Regions from separate parts of the Homo sapiens genome. Here regions 2 and 3 are each linked to region 1. The links come from fine-mapping of genetic effects on gene expression. A gene starts in region 1. Each other region holds a variant in brackets. All regions are shown on one strand. Distances are from middle to middle. Region 1 holds the start of MINK1 (misshapen like kinase 1). Region 2 overlaps SPNS2 (SPNS lysolipid transporter 2, sphingosine-1-phosphate). Region 3 overlaps MINK1 (misshapen like kinase 1).

The links.
Region 2: its variant is fine-mapped to the expression of MINK1 in thyroid (GTEx, PIP 0.92).
Region 3: its variant is fine-mapped to the expression of MINK1 in whole blood (GTEx, PIP 0.98).

Annotation. Positions count from the first base shown.
Region 1 is chr17:4,827,775-4,835,910 of GRCh38, reverse strand. It overlaps MINK1 (misshapen like kinase 1), which reads right to left and starts at 2,571. Exons shown (of 32, transcript NM_153827.5): 1 at 2,271-2,571. The coding sequence starts at 2,327. RefSeq lists silencers at 2,021-2,270, 2,281-2,750 and an enhancer at 2,728-3,514.
Region 2 is chr17:4,507,557-4,515,692 of GRCh38, reverse strand. SPNS2 (SPNS lysolipid transporter 2, sphingosine-1-phosphate) reads right to left here. Exons shown (of 13, transcript NM_001124758.3): 2 at 2,381-2,446. Among named protein-coding and RNA genes, the nearest start is that of SPNS2, 13 kb to the right of the region's middle. RefSeq lists enhancers at 834-1,491, 2,848-3,494, 6,188-6,247. The variant C/T (reference allele first, on the strand shown) is at 2,350.
Region 3 is chr17:4,849,811-4,861,082 of GRCh38, reverse strand. The region is part of intron 1 of MINK1 (misshapen like kinase 1); the gene reads right to left. It also overlaps the pseudogene ATP6V0CP1. Among named protein-coding and RNA genes, the nearest start is that of MINK1, 22 kb to the right of the region's middle. RefSeq lists a silencer at 935-1,229 and enhancers at 6,286-7,237, 10,704-11,272. The variant G/A (reference allele first, on the strand shown) is at 5,848.

The DNA.
Region 1 (8,136 bases):
CAGAAGCACTGGGAGCAGGTCACCCGGTCTCCTGAGGGGAGAGGAGAGTAAGGCTGGAGGCAACTGAGGAAGGCTAACATTGCTTCAAGCCGAGAAGTCCAGAAGGGAAATACCACATCTAAGGTCAGAGGGTATTTGTGGAATTGCTGGAAATCCCAGGTTGAGGGTCCAGGCCAAACTACCAAAAGAGGCTAAAAGAGAAACCCAAGCAGAGTCCCACAAGGTTCAAAGCAAAGGTTGTGGTTTGGACCCGCCCCGTTTTTTTGTTTTGTTTTGTTTTGTTTAAGACAAGGTCTCGCTTTGTCGCCCAAGCTGGAGTGCAGTGGTGCAATCTTGGCTCACTGCAACCTCCACCTCCCCAGTTCAAGCAGTTCTCCTGCCTCAGCCTCCTGAGTAGCTGGGATCACAGGTGTGTGCCACCACGTGTGGCTAATTTTTGTATTTTTAGTAAGGATGGGGTTTCACAGTGTTGGCCAGGCTGGTCCCGAACTCCTGACCTCAGGTGATGCCCCACCTCGGCCTCCCAAAGTGCTGGGATTACAGGTGTGAGCACCTCGCCCGGCCTGACCCACCCATTTTTTATTGTATTTTAGTCACCCCAGCCACAGGAACCTGTAGCCAGTTAATCAATAACCAAGGTAGGAAGGAAAGGTGGAAGTTCATCCCAGAATGGAGCACATTAAGGGACTTTTACTCAGAATCTGGATTTCCATCTTATATCCCGACTTGGGCATCCCAGTTTAAACCCTGGCCAAGCTGACCTTAAGAATCTCCCTCCTAAAGCCTTCAGACCCTCTCCTCATCAACACACACACATGTGCCTGCGCACACAGAGAAATTCAGCGTTCAGTCCCTCTCCCCAGAAATTTATCACGTTATCTCCAGCAAGTCAGGTCTCATAGCCCAACATTGCACCAAACAAATTATGACCTGAAAATGGGAAGAAAAAAAACTGTGTCACCTAGAGAAACCCAATTAACAACATGACTCTGCTCTCTTCAATTCCCCTCTCCCCTCCAGCCATATCCGGGGCACCTGTGTGGCTGACCGCCTTTTCCCACTACTGGCCATGTTCCCTGGCTGACTCAAAAGCCAGAAGACAGTCTGAGCAGGGGCCTCCAGAGAAGCGAACCTAGAGATGGGAAGTCCTGCTCTCCCCACACCTTGGCCTGGTGAGAGCGCTGGAAGGGCACAGGATCAAAACACCACCTGGCTGATAGTCTGGAGTGTTCACCTTGAAATCACTAAGTTGCCCCTTAAGCCAAAGCTCCCTGCCGAAGAAAAACATAAATGCTACAGAAAGCTCTTCCACCAGAGTGTGTAAGTGCCCCACAAGGGACAATGAACGGGTATTTCCAAGAAATTCCTGCAGCATTTGCTTCCTCTCAACCCCTTTCCTTATTAGCCCCTACCTTGAGAGGTCTCCATTGCTTCCAGCCTTTAGCTAACATAAACACCCACTGCCTTTCCAAACCTTCAGCCTGACCACATGTAGCATGTGTCGTGTGTGCGCGTGTGTGTGTGTGTAAACATCCTCTTCCCAGCCCGTGCTACAGTTTCCAAAGAGAAGAAATGCCTCCCCTCCTCCCCGAGGGCTCCCAGCCCCACGCTGCTGCAGAGTTGGTCATGTAATATTCAGGGACCCTGAGACCGGAAATGCCTGGTTCTGAACTGCTGCACTTGAAACAGGAGAGAAGGGATAGGGAAAACTGAACATGGGATTGAGGGTGACGGCACGAGGGGTGGGGTAGCTGAAATTCCGACCAGGGAAAGGATGCAATTCAAGGGTGGGCGAGGCAGAGAAAGAGGGATGAGAGAGAGGCTGTCGAGACAGTTGCAAAGTCAAAATTCCAGGAGCTGAGGAAGAGGAGGGGAAGGAAGAAGATAGAAGTAAGGGCAAAGGTGGAAAAGGGCCGAAAGGAGGTAAGGAACCACAATAAAGGTTCTCCAGGTGATGGGGGAGGCTAAGTTTAGGCGAACCAGTGGGTCCCGAACCCCAGAGTAAAGGTAGGGTGGCACGGAAGTGTGGGGGCGGGGCACCACAGGGTGGGGACCGAACTGGCTCCCAGCATCTGCAGCCAGTGGAGAGAGAAGGGAGCAGAGGGCGGGGGCCCAGCCGCGGCGGGAGTCCGGGAAAGGGGCACGGGTCGCCAAGGGGACCCAAGCTGGTGGAGGGGGCGCCCGGGAGCACGTGAGGCGTGCAGCCACCCCGCTCCCTCCCCTGCGGCGGGGACAGGAACCAGGGCGAGGCTGGGGGACGGCGCGCTCACCCGCAGGGCGGACAGGTCGATGTCGTCCAGGCTGCGGGCGGGGGCTGGGTCGCCCATGGCCTCCGTGGGGAACGGGGCACCGGGGCCGCTCACGCTCCGGCTCGGTTACTCCACTGCCGCCGTCGCCGCTTCTCCCCCATCGGAGAACCCCGGGGGCGGACTCCACCGCGCCTCCCCCGGAGACCGGGGAGGGGGAGGGCCGGCGCGAGGACCGACCCACCGACTGACAGGCGCTATCTCCCCGGAGCCAGCCACCCGAGCCTACCACCTCTCCTGCGCAGGCGCGGAGCGACCGCGCACTGGGAGGGTGGAAGCGCGAGCGTGACGCGAGCGCGCCGGGGCCCCCTCCCCCTAGGCGCCGACACCTGCGCGCAGGCGCAGGCGAGCAGGCGAAAGGCGCGCGCGAGGACGGAGCGACCGCGCGAGCCTGGCGTGAAAGAAGTGGGCGGCGGCCGAGGCGGCCGCGGAGCGCGCCCACCAGCTGGTGCGCGTGCGCACACGCGTTTCCTTTTCTTTCCCTATTTTTTTTGCCCTTTCTCTCCCTTATTTCCTTCTCAGATCTCCTTTGACGCCTTTCCTTCCCTTTCCCTCCTTCTTTCGTGTGCCCAGCTGCCAATCAAGCCACCCACCTTTCCATTTGCGGGGGAAGGGGGCGGTACCCAACCCCCTCTATTACTAGGGGGTTGTTATGGTAACTCCCCACGCGAGGGCTGGGTGGCCTCTAGATAGGACGGGCTGTCCACCCACCCAATTGCTATGGCAACAGTGGAGCCGCTGAGGGAGGGGCCACTCCGTGAGAACTTGGCTGGAGAAACCACGTGGGAGTTGGGGGGCAGAGGAGGGGCACCGGCTGCCTCAGGAATGCCCTTTCCACCCTCACCTAGCAGGTTGGGGAAGCATCGAGGTGCTCTCAGATCTCAGGATAAGGAATCCTACCGCAGACGTGTATCTCTGCACCTCTTTTAACAAAGTGTTCTGCACAAAGGAACTGTTTCCACAATTATTCATTGATCACTGGAGTCGCGCGTGGAGGAAGGGGTGGCGAAGGGGAAGAGAGGGAATCTGCGTTCAGTCCCTTAAAATATAGCTTGGGTCACCTTAGATCTAGTCATGTTGGCATAGCGCCTACAGCCATTAGCCTCAGTGGAGGCTGGGTAATGCTATCTAAGAACCACGAGTCATGTTCTACCACTGAAATGCTGTGTGACCTTGAGCAAGTTGCTTTGCTTCTCTGAGGTTTTCTTTCACTGTGAAATTGAGGGGGGAGGCTGTATGATCCTCAAGAGCTCTTCTAGCACCAACACTGCCTCTGAAAGACTCCACCACCAGCCTTAATATAAACATCATTTAAGAGAGTTTAATTTAGAAGTCCTTGAAAAATAGCTGAACACATTCCTTTCTGGACCGTTTTTAGCATTTGGGTGCACAGCCAGTCGGCCCCCTTCCCTAACCCCTAGCCCATTTTCCTTGCCACTGCCCTTATTCAAGCCGCTATCCCCATTCATCTCCTATTTGGCCTTCCGGCCTGACTCCTTCAAGTCAATTCTATTTTTTTTTTTTTTTTTTTTTTTTTGAGACAGAGTCTCACTCTGTCGCCCAGGCTGGAGTGCAGTGGTGCGATCTTAGCTCACTGCAAGCTCCGCTTTCCGGGTTCATGCCATTCTCCTGCCTCAGCCTCCTGAGTAGCTGGGACTACAGGCGCCCGCCACCTCGCCCGGCTAATTTTTTGTATTTTTAGTGGAGACGGGGTTTCACCATGTTAGCCAGGATGGTCTCGATCTCATGACCTCGTGATCCGCCCGCCTCGGCCTCCCAAAGTGCTGGGATTACAGGCGTCAGCCACTGTGCCCAGCCTCTATTTTTTTTTTTTTAAAGACAAAGTCTCGCTCTGTCACCCAGGCTGGAGTACAATGGTATGATCTCTGCTCACTGCAACCTCAAGCTTCTGGGCTCAAGCTATCCTCCAACCTCAGCCTCCCAAGTAGCCAGGACTACAGGCAGCGCATGCCACTACACCTGGCTGATTTTTATATGTTTTGTAGAGATGGGGCTTTGCCATGTCGCCCAATCTGGTCTCAAACCCCTGGCCTCAAGTGATCTGCCTGCCTCGGCCTCCCAAAATGCGGAGATTACAGGATCCCTTGAGGACAGGAGTTGGAGGCCAGCCTGGCCAACATGGTGGGGTTTTTTGTTTGTTTTTTTTTTTTTTTTTTTTTTTTTAGACAGTTTTAGTTTAGTTTAGTTTTTTTGTGAATTTGTGAATTTGTTTTTATTGGGGAACAGGACACAGGGTGGAAAATGTCACCTTGGTGGAGACAGAGTTTTGTTCTCGTTGCCCAGGCTGGAGTGCAGTGGCACAATCTTGGCTCACTGCAACCTCCGCCTCCCGGGTTCAAGCAATTCTCCTATCTCAGCCTCCTGAGTAGCTGGGATTACAGGTGCACGCCACCACGCGTAGCTAATTTTTTGTATTTTCAGTTGAGACGGGGTTTCATCATGTTGGCCAGGCTGGTCTCGAACTCCTGGTCTCAGGTGATCCACCTGCATTGGCCTCCCAAAGTGCAGGGATTACAGGCGTGAACCACCACAACCGGCCAAGCCTCGCAGACATAGTGAAACTCTGTCTCTATTAAAAATACAAAAAATTGGCCGGGCACGGTGGCTTGCGCCTGTAATCCCAGCACTTTTGGGGAGGCCGAGACGAGTGGATCACCTGAGGTCAGGAGTTTGAGACCAGCCTGGACAACATGGTGAAACCATGTCTCTACTAAAAATACAAAAATTAGCCGGGCATGGTGGCAGGCGCCTGTAATCCCAGCTATTCGGGATGCCGATGCAGAAGAATCGCTTGAACCCGGGAGGCAGAGGTTGCAGTGAGCCGAGAACGTGCCACTGCACTCCAGCCTGGGTGACAGAGCAAGACAACGTCTCAAAAAAAAAAAAAAAAAAAAAGCCGGGTGCAGTGGCTCACGCCTGTAATCCCAGCACTTTTGGGGAGGCCGAGACGAGTGGATCACCTGAGGTCAGGAGTTTGAGACCAGCCTGGACAACATGGTGAAACCATGTCTCTACTAAAAATACAAAAATTAGCCGGGCATGGTGGCAGGCGCCTGTAATCCCAGCTATTCGGGATGCCGATGCAGAAGAATCGCTTGAACCCGGGAGGCAGAGGTTGCAGTGAGCCGAGAACGTGCCACTGCACTCCAGCCTGGGTGACAGAGCAAGACAACGTCTCAAAAAAAAAAAAAAAAAAAAAGCCGGGTGCAGTGGCTCACGCCTGTAATCCCAGCACTTTGGGAGGCTGAGGCGGGAGGATCACGAGGTCAGGAGATCAAGACCATCCTGGCTAACACGGTGAAACCCCGTCTCTACCAAAAATACAAAAAAAAATTAGCCGGGCGTGGTGGTGGGCGCCTGTAGTCCCAGCTACTCCGGAGGCTGAGGCAGGAGAATGGTGTGAACCCCGGAGGCGGAGCTTGCAGTGAGCCGAGGTCGTGCCACTGCACTCCAGCCTGGGCGACAGAGCAAGACTCCGTCTCAAAAAAAAAAAAAAAAAAAATTGGCCGGGCGTGGTGGCTCATGCCTGCAATCCCAGCACTTGGGGAAGCCAAGGCAGGCGACTGCACTCCAGCCTGGGCAACAGCGCGAGACTCTGTCTCAAAAAAAAAAAAAAAAAAAAAAGGCCAGGCACGGTGGCTCACGCCTGTAATCCCAGCACTTTGGGAGGCCAAGGCAGGTGGATCACGAGGTCAAGAGATCGAGACCATCCTGACAAACATGGAGAAACCCCGTCTCTACTAAAAATACAAAATTGGCCGTGTGTGGTGGCGCATGCCTGTAATCCCAGCTACTTAGGAGGCCGGGGCAGGAGAATCTCTTGAATCTGGGAGGCGGAGGTTGTGGTGAGCCGAGATCATGCCATTGCACTCCAGCTTGGGCAACAAGAGCGAAACTCCATCTCAAAACAAAACAAAAACCAGATTGGCTGGGCATGGTGGCTCACACCTGTAATCCCCGCACTTTGGGAGGCTGAGGCAGGTGGATCACCTGAGATTGGGAGTTCGAGACCAGCCTGGCCAACATGGTGAAATGCCGTCTCTACTAAAAATACAAAAAATTAGCCGGGCGTGGTGGGGTGTGCCTATAATCCCAGCTACTTGGGAGGCTGAGGCAAGAGGATTGCTTGAACCCAGGAGGCAGAGGTTGCAGTGAGCTGAGATTGCACCACTGCACTCCCGCCTGGGTGACAGCGTGAGACTCTGTCTCATAAAAAAAAAAAAAAAAAAAAAAAAAAAAAAGGCAAAGTGTGGCATCAAAGACCCTTCAAGATTCTGCTGGCTTTTCTTGCCTTCTTTTTCTTTGTTAACGGTTTGCTTCTTTAGGAGTTGGGGTCTTGCTCTATCACCCAGGCTAGAGTGTAGTGGCACGATCATGGCTTACGGCAGCCTCCAACTCCTGGGCTCAAGTGTTAATCCTGCCTCAGGCTCTTGAGTTGCTGGGATTATAGGCATGAACCACCCTGCTCAGTGCCTGCCTTACTTTTCAATACTCAACTATTAGACCTCACATTTTCCAGCCATACTGAAATACTCTACTCACTTCCCAGAACTCAACTTTCTCTCCCCCAACCTTTGCATGTACTCTGTTTTCTCTTTGGAATATTCCCTAGCCTCTTGACCATGCCCATTCTTACCGTGCTTTGCTTTGTCCTACGTGTCTAAATCACCTCCTCCATGAAGCGTTCCTTGACTCACCAAGACTAAGTTTGGTTCTTCTGTTTTAGCTGCCTGGCTTTAGTCCATGGTAACATTTAATGATTTGAATTGTAAATGTCTTTTGAATCTCCTTAAAAGCAGGAATAATATTAGTCTTGTTCAGCACATGGCCTGGCACCCACTAGAAAATCAATAACGCTTAAAAAAAAAACAAAAGAAAGAAAATCACTAACACTTAAGCAATGAAGGTGGCCAGGCACCGTGGCCCATGCCTGTAATCCCAGCACTTTGGGAGGCTGAGGCGGGTGGATCACCTGAGGTCAGGGGTTCGAGACCAGCCTGACCAATATGGTGAAAACCTGTCTCTATGAAAAATACAAAAATTAGCTGGGCGTGGTGGTGTGCACCTGTAATCCCGGCTAGGTGGGAGGCTGAGGCAGGGGAATTGCTTGAACCCGGGAGGCGGAGGTTGCAGTGAGCTGTGATCATGCCACTGCACTCCAGCCCGGGCGACAGAGCGAGACTCCATCCCCAAAAAAAAAAAAAAAAAAGTAATGAAGGCATCTGTTGTCTGGGTGGGCACTGTAGCAGTTCAAAGTCAAGACCATGGGATAGTAGGAAAAAGCATAGAATTTGGAGGTAGTGCGTTAGGCAAATCACTAACCTCTCTGAGGCTCAACTCTGTCATCTGTAAAATGGAGATGATAATAATAGGGAGGTTAGGATAAAATAATTTATGTAAAGCACTTAGCATATACTAGGTCCTCAATAAATTTACTAATGCCTCAGTCATAGAGGCTCCTTTTTCCATTCTGGGTTTAGAGCCAACTCTTCTGATTCTAAGCCCTCTGCTTCCACCGCCCACCCCCCCTCACTATGGTTGGTCTCCATTTAAAAAACTCCAGGACTAGGCTGGGCACAGTGGCTCATGCCTGCAATCCCAGCACTTTGGGAGGCTAAGGCGGGTGGATCACGAGATCAGGAGTTCCAGGCCAGCCTGGCCAACATGGTGAAACCCCGTGTCTACTAAAAGTACAAAAATTAGCCAGGCACGGTGCAGGGGGCCTGTAATCCCAGCTACTCGGGAGGCTGAGGCAGGAGAATTGCTTGAACCCGGGAGGTGGAGGTTGCAGTGAGCCAAGATTGTGCCA
Region 2 (8,136 bases), 320 kb after region 1:
GGGAAGGCACAGGTGCCTGGGACACAGGCCAATTATGTGACTTGCCTAGTTGTCCACTGAGTAACATCATGGTCTACTCGACTGGCTTCTTGGCTTAGGTGGCCAAAGGGGTGAGGGCACCCTGGGGAGCCATCCTAGCTGTGCCGGGGTAGGTGACAGGTGAGGGCCATGGTGTACAGACTAGAGGGTCCCTCAGAATGCTGGCAATTCTCACCATGGCCCAGAGGCACCCGCCCTGGGGACACTGAGATGCCAGGTATCCAGGCTCCCCCCCAGCCTATGGGCAGCAGAGGCAGAGGCCCAGGTCCCTATTCCAGGCCGGCTGCTCTCCACTGCCAGCCCTCAAGCAAGCCATTTCCCTGTCTTGGGCCTTTGTCCCTGTATCTGGTAAGTGCAGCTGACAAACAGAGCCCGTAGGGTTACTGGAAGAATGAAACAAGACAATGCCTGTGTGTGCTTTGTCCACCTCCAGCCAGGCCACCGGGATGAGGAGGGACGGAGTGACTTCTCTTTCATGAGCCCGAGAAGCCAGCCTGGGACAGAACCGCAGAAAGAACCAGGGAACCCTCACACCTGCCTTGAGCCGAGCCCCCAACCCCCTGCCCGGCCTGTGACCCTCCCCACCATTCCCTGTACCTCCCGCCCCCTCCCTGGGCTGTGCTGGCCCCGACCATGCTCAGTGGTCATTAAATGGAGGATGCGTGGGGTAGAGCCTTGCTCCAGATGAGGCAGTGAGGCCGGGACCAGGAGGGGGATGAGGCTCGGGCCAGGTCCCCAGTGAGTCAGGGGCCACACAGGGCGGGGGTTGGGCAGCTAGGCCTTCTCCCACCCTTTCCTTGCCAGCCTGGCAGCCCACTCCTTCCCATGCGCCCATGTGGCTGGAACTCCATTTCCCAGCTGCAGTGCTGGTCACTGCATGCACACAGCCCAGAGGGCTAGAGGAACCTGTCTCAGGCGGCAGGGCAGGCAGACTTATTCTGGCCTAGCCAGGGAGACCCAGGAAGGGGTAGGGGAGGCGTTGGGCTCATGGCCTGGGAAAACATGATGTCTGCCAGGGCAGGGACCTGGCCACCTATAGGGGATACTGGACCGCACGGCCCTGCCCCATCCTAGAACAGTCAAGTCTCACTTGAGCCTGAGAACCATCGCAACCCCTCTCTCTGAGCCCCAAAGTCCCCATCTGGGCTGTAAGGACAGCTAGGAAGGGAGGTGGGGGGAGTGGCTGTGGCATTCTGTGAGCTCGGGAGGGATTGTGAGTACTGGAATGCCACTTAGACAGGTCAGGCAGGTTCCTGGACAGAACGAGCTCACTCCACCCCCTCCCTCCCAGGAGGGCCCAGGCAGGGGAAGGGGTTCACCGACTGGACTGGAATGCAGACCATGGGGACCTCATCCTGCATCTGACGGGGGCTCACAGCCAGATGGACTCCAGGGCCAAGGGCCCAGAGAAAGCAGGATCCAGGCTGGGGCCACACAGCATGACTAGGGCAGAGTCAGGACCAGGCCTCCCGCCCCAAGCCCTGAGTGGCAGCACTGGCCTTAGTCTCTGCCCAGGCCTGAAGGTTGCTGCTAAGAGCATCGCCAACATGGCCTCAGCCAGTGGGAAGGCCAGGGAGCCAAGGGCCCAGCTCCCACAGGGCCATGTCATGGGGAAGGCAGGGACAAGGGAGGCACGCTCCCTGGAGGGAGGGGCTGGTGGGCTGCCATAAGTGCTTAATGGCCTCCCACACTGTCCCGGCCCAGCTTCCAGCAGCCTGGGGGCTCAGGCCCTGCTCTGGCAGCCCATCAGAAGCCTGGGCCCCAGGGGAGAGGGTGGTAGGGAACCTCAGGCCCACGTCCAGTCCAGGGCCCAGATTCTCAGGCGCCTGCCCCGGGCTTGGGAACCGCTCTGGGGCTGACTAGCTGGAGTTTTTTGCTTCGTCACCTAAGAGGCGATTCCCAGGGTTGATGATATTGGAAGGAATGTGGGGGAGGGCAGGAGATAAAAACAGGGTCACCACGGCTCTGCTGGCATTGCCCAACTTACTGAATTAAGGAGCTCCCTGCACCAGCCTCAGGAGGGAGCCTGGATCACTGGGTCCCGATGAGGCCCCAGGACCCAGAGAAAGTTCACCTCTGCAACCTCTGCCTGCACTCTCCTTTACCTGCCATAGCCCCTCAGGGCAGGTATTATTCATTTTGTTACACAAGAAAAGCAGCAGAGGCTCAGAGAAGCAGTGCCATTGGCAGGTGGCAATAGTGAGACTGGGATGCAAAGCCCACTCTCTTTCCAGGAGTCAGGACAGGGGAAGACAGACCGGGTGGCAGATGACGACCAACAGGACAGGACCCACGACGCCAACGCCTGGG[C/T]GTGGGGGGGAAGGTGGGAGGTGGGCCTCACCTGACTGCAGCAGGCCGGCGCCTCGGTCCTTGACCCCAAAGTGCTGCTGGATGTCCAGAAGGACGCCTGGAGGGAAGACAGAGGGTGCTCACTGGCCGAGTCTGATGGCTGGTGTCCCCACAGACCAGCCCAGCCTCTTTCCCGCCTTGCAGGGCCCAGCCTGGCCATATCTGCGGCACTCCTGCTCTGCTGCGACCTCTACCCTGCCCAGGTTTCCCAGGCTTCCCTCCTGCCTCCCCGGGGACCTCCTGTCCTCAGCCTGTTCCCATCACTCACAAGGACCCGAGGGGCAGGGAAAGGCAGGGCTCCTCTGCGGTCATTCTGCCCCATGGGCAACCACACCTCCTATCTGCCAGCTTGGGCCTCTTCCCTACCTGCGGCCCAGGCCGTGGATCAGTGCAATAGACATAGGCCTTTCCCTCAGGGGGAACACAAAGCCCATGACTCAGAGAGCAGCGGGGGCCCTGAAAGCTGCGGGGAGCCCTCTGGCCTGGGAGGGGCAGCCGCTCACTCTGGTTCACCTGCACATGTGCACAACCACATTCGCACACACACGCACACACCTGTACATGCACACACACACCTGCACACGCACGCACGTGTGTGCACACACCTGCACACATGCATACACACCCACGCGCGCACACACATACCCGTGCGCGCGCACGCACACACACACACTGTCACCCCAGCTGCCCTCAGGATTATAACCGGGCCCCTCCATTTTCAGATTCTGGCCCAGGGTACAGAGGGAAGCAGGCGGGGCTCCAGGCCCGTTTTCTTGGGAGAAGTGGATTTCTTGAGGCCACACCCGCTTCCAAGCCCAACTACTTTAGGGCTTTGCACGTCACGGGGTGGGGGCAGCAGCTGGACCACCCAGAAACCACCCACAGCCCCAGCAGACTGGCAGAGCCATGGCTTCTGGGGGACAGGCAGGATCTTGGACCTCCTACCCCTCGCAGCACTCAGCCAGGGCTCCTGAGTAAGCACAACCCCCATCCCCGTGGGCCTCAGGGTCCCTGCCTGCATTATCTGTGAGGACAGGAGGACCCAGGGCACAGGCCAGAGCCCCGCTGACCATAGCACATCTGCAGTGAGAAGGGACAGCGGAAGAAGGAAGAGGAGATGGCCCTGCCTTTGGGGGCCTTACAGGCAGGGACAGAAGCCTTTGGGGGACTCCAGAGCTCTTCATGATGACGATGATGATGGCAGCATTCAACAGATGATGGTTTGCCGAACTGAGCATTAAATGCCTGTATAATCCCCACACAGCCCTAGGAGGCTGGTACTAGGATCCAAGTTGACAGATGAGGAAACTGGAGCATAGGAAGTCAGGCTGTGGGCTCAAAGTCACACCACAGGGAAGTAGGAAAAAGTGGAATCTCCAGGTGCTGTATGAGGATCCTGCTGGCAGCTGGGACTGGGGGTGTGGAAGGAGTGGGGAGGCTGGAACGTCACTGTCCCTTCCGAGACCCAGGTTGGAATCCTGAGCAATTTCCCGGAATGCAGGACAGACGGGCGGATGTCCCAGCAGCCTGACAGCCAGAGAAGCTGTCTTCCTCCTTGTTAATGCCCTGAGTGGGTTGACCATAATTACCCGTAATGAAGAGGCTGTGTGAGGCCCAGTTAATGACTTAATAACCAAGGCAGAGGCTGTGGCTTTGCCTTGAAGGTAGAAGCCGGGGCCAATCCTAGGCCTGTGGATGGCAGAGCCAGCAAGAGGGACCTCTGAGGTGCCCTGACCCAGCCCCAGAGGCTCACAGCCCCACAACCCATTCCTTTCTGGGTCAGGACTCTGTTCCCCCTCCTGATGTGTAGGTTTGATCCCATCCCTCTGTGGCACAGTCACTTCACAGGGTGAAGGTGTGGCCCTGCCAGCCCCGCCCTCCGGCCTCACTTCTCAGGACACCACCCCTCCACTAGCCACCCCAAACTACTCATGGCCCCCTGACTCTGCACACTTCCTCTTCTATTCTGGTACAACTCCGTCAACCAGGCTCACTCCTGCCACTTCTTCAAGGCCAGTTCAGATGCCTCCTGTTCTGGAATATCTCCCCTGCTTGCTCCCCTCCCACCACCCTCAATAAGTTAGTTGCCCCCACTCTTCCCCTGTCCAAACTCGTTTTAGCACTGGGCCTACCAGGATGAGTGGGTTCTATAGGGAATGCACACAGAAGCACAGCTATGAGCTCCTCCTGAGCTGAGAGCCGCTAGTTACCGCTTCCCGCTAAGTTCCAAGGAACTGCGTGAGGCTTTGAAGATGGTACAGACGCTGTCCTCACTATCTGTGCTGGTATTTATGATTCTCATCCCATTTTATATAGGAAGAAACCGAGGCTCTGAGACATGAAGTAATTTGTCACACAGTACATTCTGTTTTGGAGGTGAGATCTGAAACGAGGTCTATTGCCAAAAACCAAAGCTCGTTCTCCTGCCACGCTGCCTTCTGCGTGGTTTGCTGGTGTCCTCCAGGGCCCAGCACACACATAACCCACAGGGACTTTACACGTGGGTGAATGTTTCTTCATCCTCCACTAGACCACAAGCCAGGCAGGAGCCGTGGCCGGTCATCTCCAGGACTCAGAGCAGGGACAGTCACGATTTTGGTGTCGGGTGGACAAGAGGATGGGCGGAGTCAGGAGGAGGCAGGAGGGTCCCCATCCATAGTCCAGAGGAGGGACACGGGTCTGCAGTAACTGCAGGTTCCATTTCTGGGAGGGAGGCCATATCAAAATAGCCATCATGATGACATCCTGTGTCCACGGCAAATCAAAGCACTCTCGCTTCCTCCCTGCAGTATCCAGCTATCCAGCGGCACACTTCCCCATCCGATGACTTCAAGGTCCAGGATTTGCCTCTGCCTCCAGGAAGCCTTCCCCTGACTTCCTACCACATAGAGCTCCTGGTAGAGGGAGAACATTCCTCCACATCCAGATGGGCGTCTAAGGTCTCTGGGAAGTCCTGGGCAGTTCCCAGGACACAGGAAGCTTTTGGATAACATGGCCTGCTCCCGTCCCACCACTCCCCAGCGCCCAGTCTTGGGTCCAAGTCCAAGCTCCAGGAAGAAGACCAGAGAGAACCTTCCCAGGGAGCAGGGCTTCCTGCAGGCTGCGAGGCCCAAGGTCGGACCTGGGCTGAACCTTTCTGGCTTGCTTTCCCTCTTCCGGGCCTGGAGGCGGCCACAGCCACAGGAGGGTGAGATCCCGCTGGCCGCTGGCACGGGAAGCGTGTGTCACAGCAGCTCGGCGGGTCGCCTCAGATTTTCCTTTGGGCTCCAGCACGGCTCAGGCCCACGCACCCCTCCCTTCTTCACCACAGCCTTATTTTTAGCCTCTTTCCTGGAGGCTGAGGTTTGGTGGGTCACAGGATGGGCCTCACGCCCAGGAGCAGCCTCCCACAGCTCAGGCCAAGCCCACCCCGCCAGGCGTGCATGCAAAGTGGGGTTCCTACCCCAGATGCAGACCCCAGCCAACACAGCCACAATGCAGGCCTCTCCAGGCATACCCCAAATCCACAGCTGGAATCGTCTCCTAGCCACAGGGTTCTCATCACCCAAGAAAACATTCTGGAACAACATCCATTGACAAGTTACGTACCTCCCAAGCCCCAGGAGGTCTCACCTCTTGTCTGAGGCCAACGTCCCCTACTCTGGGCCAACAGTCTCTCTCGCCTGGCAGGGAGGCTGCGCTGGGTCAGTCCTTGGCTTGGGCCCGTGCACTCAGCCTCTCCCTGGCTTCCGGCTCCTGCACAGCAGCCCACAAACACGCCCACACCTCCCTCACCCTGGTGGTGAGAACAGCTCTGACTTGTCCCCTCTGCCAGCTGTTCCTTTCCTCTCCTCCTTTCACAGGTGACAGCATTTGTTGTTGTTTTGAGACAGGGTCTTGCTCTCTGACCCAGGCTAAAGTGCAGTGGCACAATCACAGCTCACTGCAGCCTCAGCCTTTTGGGCTCCAGCCATCCTCCTGCCTCAGCCTCCCGAGTAGCTGGGACCACAGGCGTGGACCACGACACTTGGCTAAGAACTCTGGAGAGTTCTTTCCCTTCCCAAGTCAATATTCTCACCTCCTTTCCTCCTCTGAAACCAACCACCTCCTGGAGGCTCAACCCCTGGACGCTCTCATCCCTGTTTCCCAGCCTCCTGACTGATTCCTCAGCTCACCACTGGGTCCCCATTCCCTGAGCGGACCCTGTAGGACACTGCAGGACCCTGGGAGTCAGCCAGGATACCCCTTTGGCTCCCTCCACCTCATGAATGGGCCCCGGTGATTCTCCATCTGCTTTATCGTCCAGCCTCCTCCCTGGACTCCCTGCCTCCAGCCCCTGCCGGCCAGCCGGCATCCCTCCTGCTGCCTGATCTCACAAGCTCTTACGAATCTCCTACTGAGTTCTAAGTCCTGGTCTGGGCCTCTAGAGACCCCGAGACAGTGCCTGGACTCAAGGAGCTAACGCTGTGGCCCACTGGTGACCTCTGGCCTCAGAGTCGTCCATCAGTCCTTTAAGATCCACTGGCCCAGACCCCTGGCTCAGTAATGGTACCAATAACAACAGCGACAATGCACATATTGACACATATCCACCAACTACTTTGTGCCAGGCGCTGTTCTACGAGTATTGGCCCAGTGGGTACGGCTGCCCACTCACACTTAGCAGCCCCATTGCCGCCCAGAATTCTAGCATCTGAGGCCTCCACGGTCTGGCCCTAAGCCAGCTCTTCTCCCAACCACAGTGCCCACCGCACACACATACAGCCCCTGACTCCAGGCAAAGGGAAATGCTGCTAGCCATGACTTTTCACCTCCCTGGACCCCTATTTCTTCCTGTGTAAATGCAGAGACTGGGAAGATCCCCAAACCTGCCTGAGAATCCCAATCACCTTTAGGGAAGGTGCTTATTAAAATACAGCTTCCTGGGGCCCTCCCCAAATCTGCAGAGTCACCCTTTCTAGATGTGGGACCTAAGAATCTATAAACGCACTGCCCAGGTGATTGGAAACCACTGGCCAGGCTGCTCTGAGTTCCCTGGAATCACACATCACAGGCTGTAGGCCGCCCAGCCCTGGCCACAGCTGTGCCTCTTCCTAGGCTATCCCTCTCTAGCCATTAAGACCTGCCTCACCTCTAGGGCGCAGATCCAAAGTCGCGTCTACCAGGATACCTGCGCCTCTCTCCTCTGAGGCTCTTGGTGAAGTGGTGCCTGTAACCTCAAGGGCACCCCCAGAACTGGATGGACTCTGGCCCTGACTCACTCAACAGCTTGCCCCAGACACTCACAGTGATTCCCCATCACTGCTGGTTCTTCAGTAGCCCCGAGAGGAGTCAAGCCCCGATTCCAGGACTTCTGGCCTCCTCCTCCCTCCTCCAGCCAGGCCCAATCTGCTGACATCACAGAATCCTCGAAAGGCCAAGGTGTAAGAGGAAATCCACACTGACCTCAAGAGCCCTCGGCTCAGGCCAGCCTCAAATGCAAGATGCCAACAGCGTGATCCTGAGGTCTCTTCCTTCCTAGGCAGCCCAGACAGGGCACCTGGCACTCAAGCTTGTCCCCGCGTACCCCCTGCTTTCCCCAAGCACAGTCAGTATCAGCCCACGTTCACCCTACCTGAGCCTGTCTCAGAGCAGCAGGTGGCTTAGCTAAATTCTCAAGAGCATGGGCTCTGGAACTGGAGCATCTGGGTTTAAATCCTGGTTTTCCCACTTTCTCTGCTGTGTGACCTTGGGGAAATAACATAACCTCTCTGTGCCAGTTTCCTCCTC
Region 3 (11,272 bases), 24 kb before region 1:
GCCAGACAGAGCAAGGCGGAGCTGGGTTTGCTCAAGGAAAGCTTTTCAGAAGAAGCTGAGGAACAAGGGCTGGAGGGAGAGAAGAGGCACAAAGCTGGTGGCCTGAGGCAGGCAAGGGGAGGGCACGAGCTGTCCCCTCAGACTCTGCTCCTCTGCCTTAAATCCCCCTTTAACTATTTCAAGTGTATTAGTTTCCCCAGCTTCAAAAGCTTCCCGAAGTTGCTCCCTAAGGCTTCGGCATCTCCCCAGCACGTGGCGCGCACTGGTGCTGTACAGTTAAGGGACACAGCGCCGTGGTCCTTCCACCTGCACCACGGTCTCTGCTCCCTAGAACTGACCAGGGGAGAACCAGGCACACACCAGCCTTGAGCCCTTGCTTCTTTGCTCTGCTCAGCCTCAAGGGACTCCCTGGACTCCTCCCACAGCTCCTACCTGGAGGAAAAACTAGGGGCAAATGTGAGCCCGTTGCAGCTCTCACGGTGCTGCCTGGGGCCCAGCATCAACAGACATTTTCCTTTCCTTTCCCCAAAACCAAAGTCATGTTAGTGTAGTAGTAGTAGTACAGACTGAGAGGAGATTAGAAACAAAGGGTTTGATTATTTCCCAAGAGAAAATGCAAGAGTTCATGCATAAACTGTTTCCAGAACGCTGTCCGGTTGGGAGGCTGGGACACGAACTGAAACTCAGAGCCTAGGAAGCGTGAGCCAAGGCTGTGGGGCCAGGAAAAGGAGAGAAGGTGAAACCCCCGTCAGTCCCTCACAATCAGCACGTGGAAATCTAGAAATGCAGGAGAGGCCTGGACTCATGGTGGAATCCAGAATGAAAGAGGTGGACGACTGAATGAGCAGAAGGAGGCAAGCACCAGAGGCTTGGGGGTCACATTTCTTGGAAGTGGCCTGGAGCTGGCAGATGAGAACTCTGGCTACCCGTCCTCATTCCACTAACAGTAGCTCCTCTAACGACATGCCCCTTCCCTCTGTACCCCGCTCCGCATGCGGCAAGTAGTTCCCGGACGCGACCCTTCCCCCTGTACCCCGCTCCGCATGGGGCCAGTAGTTCCCGGACGCGCCCCTTCCCTCTGTACCCCGCTCCGCATGCGGCAAGTAGTTCCCGGACGCGCCCCTTCCCTCTGTACCCGGCTCCGCATGCGGAAAGTAGTTCCTACGGTGTTGGTTTTGCATGTAGATGAAACCCTTTGAGGGGTAAAGGTTTTTTTTTTAAGTACTTTAGCAAATGCAAACTGTTATTATCAATATTAGCCAGCATCTTTTTTTTTTTTTTTTTTTTTTTTTTTGAGATGGAGTTTCGCTCTTGTCACCCAGGCTGGAGTGCAATGGCAAAATCTAGGCTCACTGCAACCTCCGCCTCCCAAGTTCAAGCGATTCTCCTGCCTCAGCCTCCCAGGTAGCTGGGATTACAGGCGTGTGCAACCACACCCAGCTAATTTTTGTATTTTTAGTAGAGACAGGGTTTCACCATGTTGGCCAGGCTGGTCTCGAACTCCTGACCTCATGTGATCCATCCGCCTCAGCCTCCCAAAGTGCTGGGATTACGTAGCCAGTGTCTTTCTTAAGTGCCTGTCAAATAATGCTCCTGGTTTATAAGTGCCCCTGGCTCTACCTTCTGGGTGCTCAGACACCAACACAGAGAGAACAGAATTAACATCCTGAGAAGTTACATATGCTAAAATATAAAGAGTAAGATTGTGAGGAAACTGCAGGGGAAGCAGGTAGGTTAGGAAAAGGTATCCTCACTTTTCTGCTGACCGATGAGTCATAATTCTTGAATTTCGGTGCTGGAAAGGTCCATTAAGCATTCCAGGAGATTCTAGGGAGCTTCCAGAATGGTAGAAGAACTGGAACCATAAAGCCTGGGGAAGGGATGGAAGTCCTTGGGAAAGAAGCACTAAACAGCCCAGTGGAGACAAGGAAGGACTGGTCTCTCCTGTGCTTCGAGCCCAGCAATGATTATTCACTCAGATATGCCCCGGCAGGTCCTGCTGCTAGAGCCAGTGCTGTTCCCAGACCCAGGCAAGGTGCCATCCTACCCCTGACAGGAAACAGGGCAGGAGGTGGGGCTGCCCCGGGTGCCTGGTGTTGGGAGGGGCCGGGGGGAATCCCGGGTGTTGGGAGGACAAGGCAGAGTCAGCTAGCTGTGAGGCTAGGGGAGAAGACCTCTCTAGTCTGGGAGAGACCCCTCCTTTCCTAGCTCCTTGTACTTCCAAAAAGGCAGGCTTCCTGCTGTTACTAACCATACCAGGACTGACTATACAGCAGCCAGAAAGATTCTGAGAAACCTGTGATAGAGAAAAACAGATGCGGAAGCGGGAGAAGAGAATTTCATAGGACACTAGGGAAAGAGAATGGGAACTTGTGGTCTAAAGAGGGAACCAAGTCTGGCCAACATGGTGAAACCCCATCTCTATTACAAATACAAAAATTAGCTGGGCATGGTAGTGCATGCCTGTAATCCCAGCTACTCAGGAGGGTAAGGCATGAGAATCACTTGAGACTGGGAGGCGGAGGTTGCAGTGAGCCGAGACTGCACCACTGCACTCCAGCCTGGGCAACAGAGCAAGACCTCGTCTCAAAAAAAAAAAAAAATTAAATTTAAATTAAAAAAAAATAAACAGGGAACCAACAAGAGCTGGCAGAACAGAATAAAGTCTCAAGCCAAATAACTCCCTTGCCTTGGAAGAACAAGGCTGCCAGCGTCTTGGAGCCTCTGTTTATCGGGTACCAGTTCAAAGGACAGTGAGCCTGAGCTGGCCTGGGAGGCCCTCCCCCCTCCCAGATGAAAACAATAGGCCTGTTTTCCTGAGCTCTTCCTGTAATCCAGAAGGCCCACACAGAGAGGAAGAGGGGGGCAAAGGCAGTGGCTATACCCAGTGGGGGAGGGGATATTTAGCCTCCCATAAATTCATCAGCTCCCTTAAAGACACCCCAAAACACCAACAATCTAAGTGTTAAAATAGTGACTGCTATGCAAATGGAGCTTTAAAACCTATCCCTTAGCCCCAGTACCACCAGATTACTAACCCTAAACCCCATCTGTAGGAGATATTCTGAAGCCACCACAGGGGAAGGGATAAGGGCCTGAGAGACAAAGGACAGATGGGGTCTCCCCAACAATTTAAGTTAAGTTCCACAAGGATACAGTACTGGCAGAGATTTGGAAGTAGGGGCAAGTATTCTGACAGAAGGGTGGTGTCTTAGGCACCCTTCAATTAGGAGTAGCTAAAGGCTGTGTGTGTGTCTGTGTGTGTGCATAAGAAAAGAAATAGGAGGGTGTGTGTGTGGTAAGAAAGAGCATCTTGGCTGGGCGCGGTGGCTCACCCCTATAATCGCAGCACTTTGGGATGCCAAGGCTGGCGGATTGCCTGAGCTCAGGAGTTTGAGACCATACGGGGCAACATGGTGAAACCCCATCTCTACTAAAAATACAAAAAATTAGCTGGGCATGGTGGTGCGTGCCTATAGTTCCAGCTACTCGGGAGGCTGAGGCATGAGAATGGCTTGAGCCCTGGAGGCAGAGGTTGAAGTGAGCTGAGATCGCACCATTGCATTCCAGCTTGGGCTACAGAGTGACACTCCATCTCAAAAAAAAAAAAAAAAAAAAAAAAAACCAGCATCTTTGCTGCCACTAGTCCACTGTCTTTGCACTCACTCTCTGCCATGCCCATCCTTGTCCCCCTCCCCACTCACAGACATGTCCAACAACAGCCCCGAGTATGCTTTGGTTTTCACCATCTCGGGTGCTATGGCCACCATGGTCTCCAGTGGCCTGGGTGCTGCCTGTGGCATGGCCAAGAATGGCACCGGCATCATGGCCATGTCTGTCATGTGGCCAGAGCTGATCCACATGAAGTCCATCATCCCAGTGGTCATGGCTGGTATCATCACCATCTATGGCCTAGTGGCGGCTGTCCCCCCTGCCAACTCCCTGAATGATGACAACAGTCTCTATAGCAGTTTCCTCCAGCTGGGCGCTGGCCTGAGTGGCCTGGCAGCCGGCTTTGCCATCGTCATCGTGGGGGACACTGGCAAGTGTGGCACTGCCCAGCAGCCCCGACTATTTGTAGGCATGATACTGATCCTCATCTTTGCCAAGGTGCTCATTCTCTCCACAAAGCAGCCCCTCTCAAAACCCACCAGTCACAGAATACGATGTAAAGACCACCCCTCCTCATTCCGGAACAAACAGCCTGACACGCATGTGCTGGGCAGCTGGCCCTCAGTAGTTGATCTTCTAAGTGTACAGTGTCCTCGTGTTCATCGTCTGTTGGCCAGGCCTTGCCCCCTCCCGCCCCATGCTGTGGACATCTGAACCTACTCATCACCCATCCAGGTCCCCGACCAGTGAGGACTCAGGCCCCTGGATGCCCCACCCATCTCCCTTGAGTACTCTATGTATAAGGATGAATTAGAGTTGTCATTTTCTCTTCATTAGATATTTATAAAGATTTGGCCTGTCCATACCCCTGTGGAGCAGCCCTCATCTCCCACCTATCTGTCACGTCATGGAGGTTCCCATTGCGGAGGCTCCTTGGATGGAACCACCCTCTCCAGCCCGCGCTGCCAGGCCCTGTGCGGCAGCTGTGTCTGATAAAGTTCTCAGATGTCGGGGGAGGGAAAGAAAAAAAAAAGAGAGTGTGAGTACGTAAGAGAGAGAAAACGGGAGTGGGTGTGTGAGCTGGAGACAGGGAAGTGGCAGGAAAAGTCTGATAAGATCACCTCCTTCCTACCCAAGCAGAGATACTGGACACAGCCCCTCAAGGACCCAGAGGGTAAGTAGAGCGCGAGATGCTTGCCTTTCTCAATGGGAGGTGGCCTCCCAGGCCTGAAGAAGTCTCCATTTACCCCAGAGCCAACTAGGAAGCAGGTAGACAGCATCATCCCCACTTATACCCCAAGGTGCTTGGGGTGAATGGCAGGCCCAAAGCCAAAGCATGAGACAGATTAAATGTTCCTATGGCGAGAGAAGGAGAAGGGGTCACCAGCATCTCTCCACTGAGCAAATGAAAGGAAGAGAGAAGGCAGGCTGATACCCTCATCAATTTCCTACTGTCCATGATATACCACCATCAACTGGACTTTTTTTTTTTTTTTGAGATAGAGTCTCGCTTTTGTCACCCAGGCTGGAGTGCAGTGGCATGATCTCAGCTCACTGCAACTTCCATCTCCCAGGTTCAAGTGATTCTCCCGCCTCAGCCTCCTGAGTAGCTGGGATTACAGGTGCCTGCTACCACATCCAGCTGATTTTTTTTGTATTTTTAGTAGAGATGGGGTTTCTTTCTTTTTTTTTTTTTTTTTTGAGACGGAGTCTTGCTCTGTCGCCCAGGCTGGAGTGCAGTGGCGCGATCTCGGCTCACTGCAACCTCCGCCTCCCAGGTTCACGCCATTCTCCTGCCTCAGCCTCCCGAGTAGCTGGGACTACAGGCACCTGCCACCACACTCGGCTAATTTTTTGTATGTTTAGTAGATATGGGGTTTCACTGCTGTCTCAACCTTCTGACCTCATGATCCGCCCGCCTCGGCCTCCCAAAGTGCTGGGATTACAGGCATGAGCCACTGTGCCCGGCCTTTTTTTTTTTTTTTGAGATGGAGTCTCGCTCTGTCGCCCAGGCTGGAGTGCAATGCCACAATCTCAGCTCACTGCAAGCTCCACCTCCGAGGTTCACGCCATTCTCCTGCCTCAGCCTCCTGAGTAGCTGGGACTACAGGCGCCCGCCACCACGCCCAGCTAATTTTTTGTATTTTTAGTAGAGACGGGGTTTCACCTTGTTAGCCAGGATGGTCTTGATCTCCTGACCTCGTGATCCACCTGCCTCAGCCTCCCAAAGTGCTG[G/A]GATTACAGGTGTGAGCCACCATGCCTGGCCTTTTTTTTTTTTTTAAGACAGGAGTGTGGTGGCACAATCTCAGCTCACTGCAACCTCCCCTTCTAGGTTCAAGCAATTCTCCTGCCTCAGCTTCCTAAGTATAGTAATAGCTGGGACTATAGGCGCCCACCACCACGCCCGGCTAATCTTTTGTATTTTTAGTAGAGATGGGGTTTCACCATGTTGGCCAGGCTGGTCTCGAATTGCTGACCTCAAGTGATCTGCCCACCTGGGCCTCCCAAAGTGCTGGGACTATAGGCGGGAGCCACCGCGCCCAGCCTGGACTCTTTTTAATGAAGCCTTCAAAAAAACTCCTTTTCTCAGCGCTTCTTACTCTCTGAAACAGACTCTCCACTCTGCTAACCCTGCCTCTCACACTGTGGAACTCAACCGGATCTTTTTATTCTGAATCCACAACGTGAAGTACTTGTCCTCTGTCTATCGATGGCTACCTGTGTTTTGAAGTGTTTTTATGGGAATGAAGCACTGGAGGGGAGGAAATCAGGCCAGTTCTAGAAGTAGAAGGAAGGCGAAGAAACCAGGAAAAATATTTATGTGATGGGAGGAAAGGCAGTTTATAAATCACTCATGGATCTCTATGCCAGAGGGATGTGTGAGACACACGCATGCACACACACACTGACTTGCAGGTACATGCAGAGGCAGAAACAAGTCAGGACATGACACATACATGAATACACATACCATTCTCATCAGAAACCAGTCAGAGCAGAGGGGCCCTGCCTGGAGCAAGGAGACTGGAATTTATTCCCCTCCTCCTCTCAAAGGGTAATTTTGCTGCCTCCATGTCTAGGTTCCCCACAGATCTGGCTGCCTCAGACAGGGGCCCTGGTCTGGTGGCTGGACTCAGCCTGGAGGTCTTCACAGATGGAGGCCTATAAGAGGTGGCAGCTGACACCTGGAGGGAGCTGGATGAAAGCAGGCAGTGCAGAGTAGAGAAAGCCAGGTGGTGGGGGAGGGAGTGAGGGAGAAGAGGGGACCAGATTCAAGCAGCCTTGCGCTGGTTCTAAAATGGCCACAGCAAGGCAACGGACAGATGGTCCCTTTCTGATGCTGAGCCGGGGAAGTGGGGAAAGGGAAAAGGAAAAAATAAACACCATCACAGTCAGAAATTTAAAAATAAACTGAAAAACCTAAAAAATAAACCGTTTGCTTCTGAGGTTCCGTCTGCCTCCAGAACCTTCTAAGGGAAAATACAGAACTGCAGGCCTGGAAGGGCAGCCCCAGCCTCGGGTGTGAAGATAGTTGGAGGTCATTCTAGCCATCTCCTATCCCCAGCTGGAGTATCTTGCAAAGTCTTTCAGGCAGCGGAGGTGGTATCTCAGCCTTTACCTCCCCAGCACTTCTTCTCAAGTCTCACTGTAGGTAAGCGAGGCCATGGCTTTTCAAATGTCAGAGCCGTTTGATTCTGTCTCTCTCCCAAGAATCAGTTTCCGTCCGAGATCAGCAGAATCAAGTTCATCCTCTCACAGTTGCTGCCTCTCCTACCACCACCCAACTGCCCAGACTTTACAGTTCACAGGGTGCTTTCACAGTCATGACTGCATCTGCACTTAAACCTGCAGGGAAGCTTGGCAGGAATGACTAGCTCAGAGCACAGATGAGAAAGCCAGGGCTCTAACAAGTGAAATGTTTGTCAAGGTGAAGCAAGCGCTCAAACTTGCATAGCCTTCCGATGGCACACAGCAACAACCACACTCCCCCACCAACCACACTCTTCCCACCAACCACACTCCCCCCACCAACCACACTCCCCCTCAACCACACTCCACCAACCACACTCCCCCAACCACACTCTTCCCACCAACCACACTCCCCCCAACCACACTCTTCCCACCAACCACACTCCCCCACCAACCACACTCTTCCCACCAACCACACTCCCCCACCAACCACTCTACCTACCAACCACATTCCCCCCACCAACCACACTCTTCCCACCAACCACACTCCCTCACCAACCACACTCCCCCCACCAACCACACTCCCCCCACCAACCACACTCCCCCTCAACCACACTCCCCCACCAACCACACTCCCCCACCAACCACACTCCCCCCACCACACTCCCCCAACCACACTTCCCCCACCAACCACACTCCCCCCATCAACCACACTCCCCCCACCAACCACACTCCCCCTCAACCACACTCTCCCCACCAACCACACTCCCCCCACCAACCACACTCCCCCATCAATCACACTCCTCCACCAACCACACTCCCCACCAACCACACTCCCCCTCAACCACACTCCCCCCAACAACCACACTCCCCCACCAACCACACTCCCCCACAAATCACACTCCCCCACCAACCACACTCCCCCACCAACCACACTCCCCCACCAACCACACTCCCCCACAAACCACACTCCCCCACCAAACACACTCCACCCATCAACCACACTCCCCCACAAATCACACCCCCCCCACCCAGTAGATTCTGTCTCCCTCTGTGGGCCAAACAGGTTCTTCCTCAGGCTCACATATGACTGCTGTACAGCTGAATATCCCAGCTATGGTTTACCTGGAGCCTTGCCAATTCTCATGCTGGTGCCTTTTGGTTCTTGCTGGTGTGGGGATGAGGCAGAGGGGCAGGAACACTGCACTAACTAGTGGCTTTCTCTCTGTTCCTTCTCACTCCTGGGTCTCCACATGCTGTTCATCACTCTCCTCCTCTTTACCTGGATGCCTCGTGCCTGTGCCTCCCGACCTCCACTGAGACAATGTCACCTCCAGGAAGTGCCCCTCACAATCCTCTCCTCCCACAATACCCTGTACTGACTCTTTCGTGACACCAATTACATTTTTGTGATTGATTCTCTTATCTGTCTCCTCTGCTAGACTAAGTTCTTGGAGGTCAGGGCTGCCCTCAATACCTGTCTGTGGAATGAATGAATACAGAAATAAAAGAAAAACCTCCCTCCTTCCTTAATGCAGCAGTTATCTAGAAAAACCTCCCTCCTTCCTTAATGCAGCAGTTTCTCACACTAGTTTTGGATTATCTCCATCCTTCCAAAATAATCCTTGAATATTCACTTAAGTGGAATGCATTAGAGCAGCTACTAAAAGTGAATCTCCTTTTTGTCATATGAATCAGCACCTCATAATTTATATGCTTGGTAAATGTTTTACCAGAGAGTGGACTTTCTTAGTTTTTTTTTTTTTTTTTTTTTTTTTTTTGAGACAGAGTCTCACTCTGTTGCCCAGGCTGGAGTGCAGTGGGGTGATCTCAGCTCACCGCATCCTCTGCCTCCCCGATTCAAGTGATTCTCCTGTCCCAGCCTCCCAAGTAGTTGGGATTACAGGCACAAGCCACCACACCCGGCTAATTTTTGTATTTTTAGTAGAGACAGGGTTTACCTTGTTGGTCAGGCTGGTCTTGAACTCCTGACCTCAGGTGATCCACCCACCTTGGCCTCCTAAAGTGCTGGGATTACAGGCGTGAGCCACCACGCACGGCCCGAGAGTGGACTTTCTTAAGGCAGGGAATTCCTACGTGGTTGGCAAAAACCACACGGGAACACTAATAATGGCCCAAAGAGGTCGGGAGACAATGGGGCCAGGAGAGATGAAGGGAAGGCTTCTCGGAGGAGAAAAGAGCTCAGCGCAGTGGAAAGGAGAAGGAAACGGGCAGAGGCTGGGCTGGGTGAGAAGGGCCAAAGAAGTCCCCATCGCAGGGGGGCAGACAGCGAGCAGGAAGGCTCTAAGATGGAAGAGGGTAACTCAGGGGTAGGCTTTCTTAGCTGAGGACAACAGCAAGACAGGAGTGTGGTGAAATGGAATGATGGTGCTTAGTGTTTACTGCACTAAGAATCAGAAGGCCTGGGCACTGGTTCTGACTCTTCTGTATAATTTAGGCAAATCCGCAAATCACTTAACCTCTTGGAGGTTCTTTTCCTTATCTACCCAGGCCCATTTCACAAGAATTCACCGATGTGGAAACATTTTAAAATCCATAAAATGCTACAAATTTGCATAGAGTCATTATGAAGAAACTGGCTCCCACAAAGCAAGGCAAAACTGTGGCAAAAAGTGATTTACCAAAACTGTTGGCGTTACTGGGATTTAGGGTGAAGTGTGGCAGTTCAGGAGAGAAGAAACAAGATAAAAAGTAGAATTGAGAGGAAGGCAGGTGAGACAGAAGGGAGGAAAACCAGATCTGTGGCCTCGGAGGCAGGCTGACAGGGGCAGGGAGGAGGGCCAGTCCCTGGGAAGCAGACACCAGAGAGAGCAAGGAAGGGCACAGCATGGCAGTGGGAGGGGGCAGAAAGGAGATGCCAGGCCCGTTCAGGCTGGCAGATACCAAGCTAACGGAGGAGGACAACACTAGTAATGAGGGGTTGGATAATAATAAGGCTTCTTGCTGCTGGTTTTCAATTGCAGCACAAACAGATCATTATATCTTATTGCCAGCCTCCTTCTGTGGGAGTCAGGTGTCCACAAACCCAAGGAAGAGACTAGAGAAGCTTCATGACCAAGAAAACTTGTGACCTGTACCCATATGATTTCGAATTCCAGAAGACCAATGACAGGCCATGAGAGAAAACTTAGGAAGGAAAGCTCTGAAGGACAAGGGGACAGGAAAAGAGATCCTGGAAGGAGAGGGAGAGGGTGTGAAGCTGAGTCAGCTGTAGGAAGAACAGGTAGAGGGCGGGGGGGGCCAGCAGGAAGGGGAGGAAGGACTGTCTGAATCACACTCTGAGAAAGAACAGGGTTACTCTCCAAAGGGTGGAGACCAGATATTCTCTGGCCCCACCAAGGACCAACCCAGGATAAATTACAGCTGAAGAGACGCAGGTGAGACAGAAGGGGAACTTCCTGACCAGCAGGATGGAGCAAACATGTTCACTCAACTTTTCACCAGGCCTGTCTCTCCTGTTTATCCTAAGAAACCTTCCCAGACACCTTTCATGCCAAATCTATGGCCTGGTGAGCCAGCTCATGCATTCATTCAACAAACACTGAGTGTCAGCTATGTAGAGGCATTGCTAGATACTACAACGTGGCGTTGAACAAAACAGAAATGGTCCCTTCTTCCTTCATGGAGCTTACAGTCTAATCAAGGAAGCAGACATTAAAGACATAATTACACAACACCTGTGAAAGACTCTGATGAAAAAATACAGAGTGCTATCAGAACGATTCAAGGAGGCTGCAGTGAGCCACGCTTGCGCCACTGCACTACAGCCTGGATGACAGAGGGAGACAGTGTCTCAAAAAAAAGAAGAAAAGAAAGATTAAAGGGAGGTCAAGATGGGAAGGGAGCCAGGAAAGGCTCGCTAAGGAAGTGATGTTTAAGCTGAGACCAGCCGGGCGCGGTGGCTCACACCTGTAATCCCAGCGCTTTGGGAGGCCGAGGCGGGCGGACC